3 separate regions of the Homo sapiens genome follow, and all the other regions are linked to region 1. The links come from fine-mapping of genetic effects on gene expression. A gene starts in region 1. Each other region holds a variant in brackets. All regions are shown on one strand. Distances are from middle to middle.

Region 1 (2,763 bases):
GACCTCGTGATCCGCCCGCCTCGGCCTCCCAAAGTACTAGGATTACAGGTGTGAGCCACCGCGTCTGGCCTTGAGACAGTTCTTATCTCAGACATACAAGCATGAGTTTCCTTCCTTTCTGGTCTCTAGGCTCCAATTTGTCTGGGTCTGACAATAGTTACTTCTCCTGGAATCTGCAACTTTCAGAGCACTTTATGGAAAAAGTCGGCCAACCCCTGCCCTACACTCACTCTTGATCACTCTCCAGTGTAGCCATCCCAAACTATTTGCAGACCACCCTTTTCTCTCTGATCTGTATCCCACCCCCATGGGTGCTTCCATAGAACTAACCCCATCTAAGCATTTAACAGTTATTCTAATTGCCCTTTTACTTGTCTGACCCAAGTGTTCGCCACTCAATCCTCAGCACCCAGCACGATCCCTAGCCCTCGTTCAGCGCTTAATAAATCCATGTTGATTCAATGTGTAGCATCCTGAACAGGCAACAGCAGTGGGTTCCAACTTTCAAGGAGCTTAAAAAAGGAACTCAGCATACAAACAACAGACTAATCTACAAGGAAGAATGAGGGGGGTGGAGGGAGCACTAAAAAGCAGCAAGTACTCTGCAGCAGAACCAAAGATAAAATTCCACCTAAAGGTGCCCTTTCTTCAGGATCCTTCCTAATTTGAATACAGGTTCCCTTCTCCTCCATGACGAAATTCTTAGTGAGGTTACTTGTTGGTACGCAGTGTCCTCATCTGTAAAATAAGGCTAAATAATTACGATTTCACCGGATTATAATGAATATGGTTAAGTATTGAACTAAGGCCTAGAAAGCACGTAGCTCAGTGCACGCTTCCTAGAAAGTGCTCAGTAAACTCGGATCCTCTAACACGCTCCGTTTGATGTTAATGGAGTCCGTATCCGAGCGGGTCTCCAGTGTGCATCGCCAAGGGTATGGCCCAGCATCCAACGCATCCTTTTAGTAAGAGTAGCGACTTCTCAGCGCTCCCTTCGCCCCAGGAGAGTTCTCGGCTCGCGGCGTCGCGGCGGGGCTGCGCGCTGGGCTGAACTCCCAAGAAACCTCCTGCAGCTGAACCGGAGCAGACGCCCGCCAGGTGAAAGAACTACAACTCCCGTCACGTTGCATCCGAGTTTAGGGCCTCTTTATAGTTTATCACACCCAGCCTCTTCCGCGCAGCCCTCAGTGGCTCCGCCCCAAAGGGGGCTCTCTTCTTTCCTTGTGGAGTCCGAAGCGTGGCCACGCCCCGGTCACCGGAAAAATCCGTGTGACGTCACAAAAACCTACGCGTCGCGCGGTGGGCGGGAGTTGGCGGACGGTCCCTGGCTGGGTTCTGGAGGCCCTGGGACCGCGGAAGAGGCTTCAGACGCTGCAGCGATGCCTCGCCCACGGCGGGTCAGTCAGCTCCTGGATCTGTGAGTCTACCCTGTCCCGCCTCCCTTCGCGCCGCCCCAGCACCTCCTCCAAACGGCCAGGCCCTGCGCTGCTCTTCCTCCCCGCCCCTTTCCCACCCCCCCCGCCGACCTCTGAAGAGGCCCCGCGTGTGTTTCTGTCCCTGGGTTCCTGATCTGTCGTTTCCTGGCTGAGGACAGTTGTGCAAAGTGGGTCTCTTGGCGGGCTTGCCCCTCCAACACTCCGCTGCGCGATGAGCGTCCATTCCTCCGTCAGCCTTGACAGCTCGGCGCCCCGGCTGTTACTGGCAGTGGCCTCTCTCTTAGCAGCTAAAAGCCTTGGTAGAAAAAAACACAACGCTAGATGAGGTTCTCAAAAGCTTCTAGCAGAATTCCACCCCTGTAACTGGAATAAACATTGACAGACCCTGGGATAAAGGTAACAAAGTGGTTAAGACCACGGATCCCTGGCTGAGATTGCTGGGTTCAGCCCCCGGCTCTGCCATTCACCAGCCACGTGACCATGGACCGGTAACGTAACCTCTCCCTGTGCCTAGGTTCTTTATCTATAAAATTTTTGTGATAATAGCACCCATCACATGGAGTTGTCCTGAGGGATAAATTTAAAACATGTAAAACCCTTATAAGGATGCCCAGCAAATAATAAACACCACTAAGTGTTATTGTTATTATTATTTCCTACCAGAAATTGTACGGAAATGGAAGTTACAAGGGCAATTGCGTCTCTCCAGGAGCTTTCAGTCCGTTAATATTGCCATGTAAAAAATAGACATCTTAAGGATAAGGAGAACAATCTCCTTAATCTACTGAAGGCTTTCTGAAACAATGGCATCTGATATTTTACATTAAACTTGGGAGGCCGAGGTGGGAGAACTGCTTGAGCTCAGGAGTTCGAGACCAGCCTGGGCAACGTGGCGAAACCCCGCCTCTACTAAAGATACAAAAATTATCTGGGCACGGTGGTTCACGCCTGTAATCCCAGCACTTTGGGAGGCCGAGGCACTTGAGATCAGGAGAGTTGGAGACCAGCCTAGCCAGCACGGCAAAACCGCGGCATGTACTAAAAATACAAAAATTAGCCAGGAGTAGTAGTGGCGCCGGTAGTCCCAGCTACTCTGGAGGCTGAGGCAGGAGAATCGCCTCAACCCAGGAGGCAGAGGTTGCAGTGAGCTGAGATCGCGCCACTGCACGCCTAGGCTGCTAGGCGACAGAGCGAGACTGTCTCAAAAAAATAAAATAAATAACTATAATATATGTAGAATAATATCACAAGCGGGAGAGTAACAAACTTTTGAAATTTCTAATAAGGAAAAGAATAGGAGAAAGCTTTGTCAAGGGGGTTATTTTTG
Region 2 (2,763 bases), 57 kb after region 1:
GCTTTGTCATGGTTGCCATTTAAATGGTATGTCTTTGTCCATTCTTTTACTTTCAACATAATTTGAATCTATCTTTGATTGAGATTTCCTCTACAATAACCAATAATATTTTTATGACCATGAATAAAACTGCATTTATCTTACTAGCTGCTTTTTTAAAAAATTGTAAACCTTTGTTTTCCCAATGATAATAACTTTTCATTTCTATACACTCTCTGGTTCTCTTGCTGGCAATAAACCTTGGTATTTTTGCTTAATTTTGTTAAACTTAAAATAAAATTTTGTCACTGTATATGTTGGGCCCATCTTTTTTTTTTTTTCTACTGGTCTGTGAAATCTGTCTAGGAACCACCAAATTACAGGATTTCCAAGACTAGGTTAGAGATATGTTGTACATAAAACATAGGTTGTATCTATGGAAACAAGTTTATTAAACTTATGAGTAATATTTAAACTAACAAAATTTTATCAGTATTTTTGCTTTAATTCAGATTTTTAAAAGACATCCTAAAACTAGGATGGAAACCATATCAAAATCACGACTGTACATTGTGAAAAACTGAAAACATCTAAATGTCCAATAATATAGATTGGTTAAATTACAGTGTATTTATATAATGGTTATCTATTTAAAATCATGCTTTATAGTAGTATTATACAGACATGGAAAAATGTTCAGCTACAGGTCAACTTGTCACGTTCGGTGACTACTACCTCCTTTAACCCTTTGGGTGTGTTGCAGCTTCCCAAGGTGGTTTACCGTACCTATTGGCTTTCTTTAATCCTACTTTTTTGGTAAATATTCCCTTCATTAAATGCTGTTCAGTCACCCCACTTTAGTGAATCATCTATTTCCGGCTAAGATCCTGAAAAAAGTTATTAACCATTAACACAGGTTAATGGTGAAATTAGACCATTACTCTGGTTGGTGGAATTATGATGAAATTACAGAGAAAACAACAAATGCCTGTTTTTTTTTTTTAAACAAGTAATACCATGATAGGTGCACTACACCTAATAATAGTGAGGGCTACCATTAATTAATTATTAGTGAGTTAGTTGTATATTGTGCTTTATAGATCACCTCCTTTAATCCTTTAAATAACTGTATAATAATTAACATCACCTCCAGTTAGACATGAGGAAACATTAAACATTTTTTATTGTCAATTAATATATTGTCATTGTTTTCTTTTATAGATCATTCCCGAGAAGTGTTGGAGCAATTAGTAGGCCCAAACAAACTAAAGCAAGTGACATGGACTGTTTATTGATGCTTTTTTGAAGATGATCAATGCTAGGAAAGCTTATCAAAACTACTTTCCCAGGAAACCATCTATAGAGATTTGCATTCTACTTAATGTTAACACTATTTTTAATTATTTTATTGT[C/G]TTAAGTTATAACTCTCAGAGAATTAGCTAAGTCTTGGTATATACATGGTTTGTGCTTTACTCTTAAACATCTTTAAAGTGCTATTATTCTATATCTGTTGGATGAGTCATTATTTTTGAAATGATAATCCTAGCATGAACTCTGATCTATGGTGTTGGATTCTGTTTCTTAAATAACTTTAAAATTAACTGTTTTCCCTTGAGATTTCCTTCTCCTATGTAGGTATTTGAGCTATTGTTCTAAGTTTACCTGTAAGTATAAACCTTGGGAGAATCTAAGTAAACATATTTCTAAAAGCATAGTTACCTTCCTATTTTCTGGCTCTTACCTTCTTGGAGTATTTAAATGCCCATTTGCCAAAAGCAGACCTGAACATCAAGCCTGTTAATTCTTCAAAGAATTTAGGTATTTGTTTCACCGAAATGAAGTGACTTATTAGCCATTCAGCGTATTAGTATTACAGAGGCTCTTGCCCAGCCACATCCATTCATTGATTTTTATGGCTACTCTTCCCAGTTACATTTTATGCATCTGTAAGCTTTCCTTCCTTAGCAAAATTGCATTCAAAAATGTGTAAAAATGAGTAAATACAGAATATCACTACAGAGACTTGTATCCTCAGGTTTATTGATTTCACATTGTGAAATAAACAGCAAAGGTCTTAGTTTTCAAGTGAAAACTTTTTGGTAATCACAAAATTACCTGACACATACCACGCTTAAACCAACCCCCAAATTTAGCATATTCATTTTGCCATGAGCCAGTCTTGAGATTTTCTTAAAAGATTTCTTATTTTGCCTCTGATGTAGTGAAAAACGGGGTAAGTATGCTAACTTTCTTGTATATGTTGGGGGGTACTTATTCAACTCCATTTCTTGTCCTTACAAGATTTATAAATGTGGTATGTTTATAGTGTGGATATATATGTTGCCACTGCAAAGGTGGTGCATATGTATATATGTGCAAAATGGGTAAGGCCTGTTCTAACTATGAAATTTTTCTAAAGACAAATTCAATAAAATTTAATACTGAATATTTAACCAAGTCAATCACATTTTCCCCTTTTTGCAGAAACTAGTTTCGACATCTAAATTGTGAGCTTCTTTGGGTCTATGAAGGATTTATCTTCCTAAAACAGTTTGCAGTTTGATATTTCTCCTTTTTTATGTTGCTAGCTGTATTAACTATTTCTCACCACTCTGTTTAAAATATCTGTACCCCATCCAGTACCCAGTATTCCCTATTACCCTTACTTCTTTTTCTCCTTACTACCTATCACCATCTGATGCCTGTTTTCATTTGTTCATTATGTCTCCCTACTCTAGAATACAAATTTCATAAGGACAAAGTATTTATCTTTTTTTTTCATTG
Region 3 (2,763 bases), 59 kb before region 1:
CTGTGCACTGCACAACTTTTTATGTTATGTGCACAGTGCCCTCTGGAGTTATAAAATGCAAAGTCGGCTGGACGTGGTGGCTCTCGCCTGCAATCCCAGCACTTTGGGAGGCCGAGGCAGGCAGATCACAAGGTCAGGAGTTCGAGACCAGCCTGGCCAACATGGTGAAACCCCATCTCTACTAAAATACAAAAATTAGCTGGGCGTGGTGGCATGCGCCTGTCATCCCAGCTACTCAGGAGGCTGAGGCAGGAGAATCGTTTGAACCCAGGAGGTGGAGGTTGCAGTGAGCCGAGATCGTGCCATTGCACTCCAGCCTGGGAGACAGAGCAAGACTCTGTCTCAGAAAAAAAAAAAAAAAAAAAAGCAAAGTCTACTCAGCCATACCTGGAAGCCTAGACGCCAGGCAGGTAACACAAATCAGTGAAACCTGGGGCCCTTTGAAAGGATTCCAGCAAATTTAAAAATAATGGTCAGAGCACTGTGGAGTTGTAGAAAAACAAATTTGCAGACTATGTTCAGCCTTGGAGCTCAAGTTTGGGACCTCTGCCATATAAGGTAGAGGCAGTCAATATTTTTGTCAAGGTAATGATGCAAAGAGATATGTAAAATAGATTACCATAGAGAAAAGAGGCTACAAAGAAATAAAAAAGTCAGAAAAGTACTTCAATAATCTGGGCTGAGGAAACAGGGGCCTGGCCGGGCCAGAACTATGTGGATAGACATAGAAAGAAAAGAATTAGTAGAATTTAGTGATCAGATTCAGGTTTGATTCTGAACCAAATCAATTCAGACTTGATTTCTCATAAGACAAAAAAAAAAAAAAAAGAAAGGGAGACCAGAGTAATGCAAGGTTTTGAACTTGGGTCCTTAGGAAAATACCTGGAAGAAAAATATTTACCTTGGAAATAATTTCAGATTAAAAAATAATCTTTTGACCGGGTGTGGTGGCTCACGCCTGTAATCCCGGCACTTTGGGAGGCCGAGGCAGGCAGATCATGAGGTCAGGAGATGGAGACCATCCTGGCTAACATGGTGAAACCCCGTCTCTACCAAAAACACAAAAAATCAGCTGGGC[G/A]TGGTGGCGGATGCCTGTAGTCCCAGCTACTCGGGAGGCCAAGGCAGTAGAATGGTGTGAACTCATGAGGCGGAGCTTGTAGTGAGCCAAGATCGCACCACTGCACTCCAGCCTGGTCAACAGAGTGAGACTCAGTCTCAAAAAAAAAAAAAAAAAAAAAAAACTTTTAGGATAGGATAGTAAAAATCATGTTTTGAAAGCTTATGTAATGCTGGCCGGGCACGGTGGCTCACGCATGTTGGGAGGCTGAGGCAGGCGGATCACTTGAGGTCAGGAGTTCGAGACCAACCTGGCCAACATGGCGAAACCTTATCTCTACTAAAAATACAAAAATTAGCCAGGCTTGGTAGTGGGCGCCTGTAATCCTAGCTACTGGGGAGGCTGAGGCAGGAGAATCACTTGAACCTGGGAGGCAGAGGCTGCAGTGAGCAGAGATCGAGCCACTACACTCCAGCCTGGGCAATAAAGTGAGACACCATCTTAAAAAAAAAGAAAAAAGCGCTGGGAGCAGTGGCTCACCTCTGTAATCCCAGCACTTTGGGAGGCCGAGGTGGGCGGATCATGAGGTCAGGAGATCGGGACCATCCTGGCTAACACAGTGAAATCCCATCTCTACTAAAAATACAAAAAATTAGCCGGATGTGGTGGCGGGCACCTGTAGTCCCAGCTACTCGGGAGGCTGAGGCGGGAGAATGGCGTGAACCCAGGCGGCGGAGCTTGCAGTGAGCCGAGATTGTGCCACTGCACTCCAGACTGGGTGACAGAGTGAGACTCTGTCTCAAAAAAAAAAAAAGAAAAGAAAAAAGCTTATGTAATGCTATGGCACTGCTCATAATAAAAAAAATGTGAGAAAAAAGCAGACAAGAGGAAGACAAAAATTGGAAAAAAAACTATGCAAAAACATTAACAAAATGTTATCCTCAGCAATGTGATTGTAAGTTATAAAAATTTTCTTCCTTGTACTATGTTTCCAAACTTTCTACAATGAATGTTATATTTAAAAATAGAAAAAAATACTTTTAAAGATCCTAGAGGCTTCCCTTTTACAGAAACCATAAATTCAACCTTCATTATTTTGTTTTTGTGGTAACCATTTGTGACAGTAAGTGCTAACAGGCTTGGCTTTTTGGTTTTGGAAAAATTGGTCCTTGTGTACTAAATAGAAAGTCCTTGTAATCTCGAGGAGATAAAGATTTAATGTTGCCTAGTGATACAGATTTGTTTTAGGCATTATTTTCTTATTCAAAAACTAACTTCAATTGTTTTAATGATTTTTAGAAAAGATGGTTTTCCTTTTTTTTTTTTTTTGAGATGGAGTCTCGCTCTGTCGCCCAGGCTGGAGTGCAGTGGCGTGATCTTGGCTCACTGCAACCTCCACCCCCCGGGTTCAAGCAATTCTGTGCCTCAGCCTCCCAAGTAGCTGGGATTACAGGCACCTGCCACCATGCCCAGCTAATTTTTGTATTTTTAGTAGAGATGGGGTTTCACCATCTCTGCCAGGCTGGTCTTGAACTTCTGATCTCGTGATCTACCCTCCTCGGCTTCCCAAGACGCTGGGATTACAGGTGTGAGCCACTGCGCCCGGCCTCTTTTTTTGGAATTAGCTGTTAGCCCTTCCCAAGTTGTATTCATAGCTTAAAGCCTATCTAAGCTTTTGCCAAGAACATAAAGATTTAAGCAAAACG

Evidence for each region.
Region 2: its variant is fine-mapped to the expression of AMN1 in whole blood (TOPMed, PIP 0.97).
Region 3: its variant is fine-mapped to the expression of AMN1 in whole blood (INTERVAL, PIP above 0.99).

The regions. Positions count from the first base shown.
Region 1 is chr12:31,727,625-31,730,387 of GRCh38, reverse strand. It overlaps AMN1 (antagonist of mitotic exit network 1 homolog), which reads left to right and starts at 1,367. Exons shown (of 7, transcript NM_001113402.2): 1 at 1,367-1,417. The coding sequence starts at 1,380. It overlaps AMN1-AS1 (AMN1 antisense RNA 1), which reads right to left and starts at 1,123. Exons shown (of 1, transcript NR_198987.1): 1 at 1-1,123. LOC105369722 (a long non-coding RNA gene) reads right to left here. Exons shown (of 3, transcript XR_931497.3): 3 at 1,498-1,731. RefSeq lists enhancers at 859-1,058, 454-1,086, 1,099-1,448 and a silencer at 1,499-1,578.
Region 2 is chr12:31,670,815-31,673,577 of GRCh38, reverse strand. It overlaps ETFBKMT (electron transfer flavoprotein subunit beta lysine methyltransferase), which reads right to left. Exons shown (of 4, transcript NM_001135863.2): 4 at 464-2,763. AMN1 (antagonist of mitotic exit network 1 homolog) reads left to right here. Exons shown (of 7, transcript NM_001113402.2): 7 at 1,201-2,436. The coding sequence ends at 1,274. Among named protein-coding and RNA genes, the nearest start is that of ETFBKMT, 13 kb to the right of the region's middle. The variant C/G (reference allele first, on the strand shown) is at 1,392.
Region 3 is chr12:31,786,993-31,789,755 of GRCh38, reverse strand. No RefSeq gene overlaps it. Among named protein-coding and RNA genes, the nearest start is that of H3-5, 3.9 kb to the left of the region's middle. The variant G/A (reference allele first, on the strand shown) is at 1,079.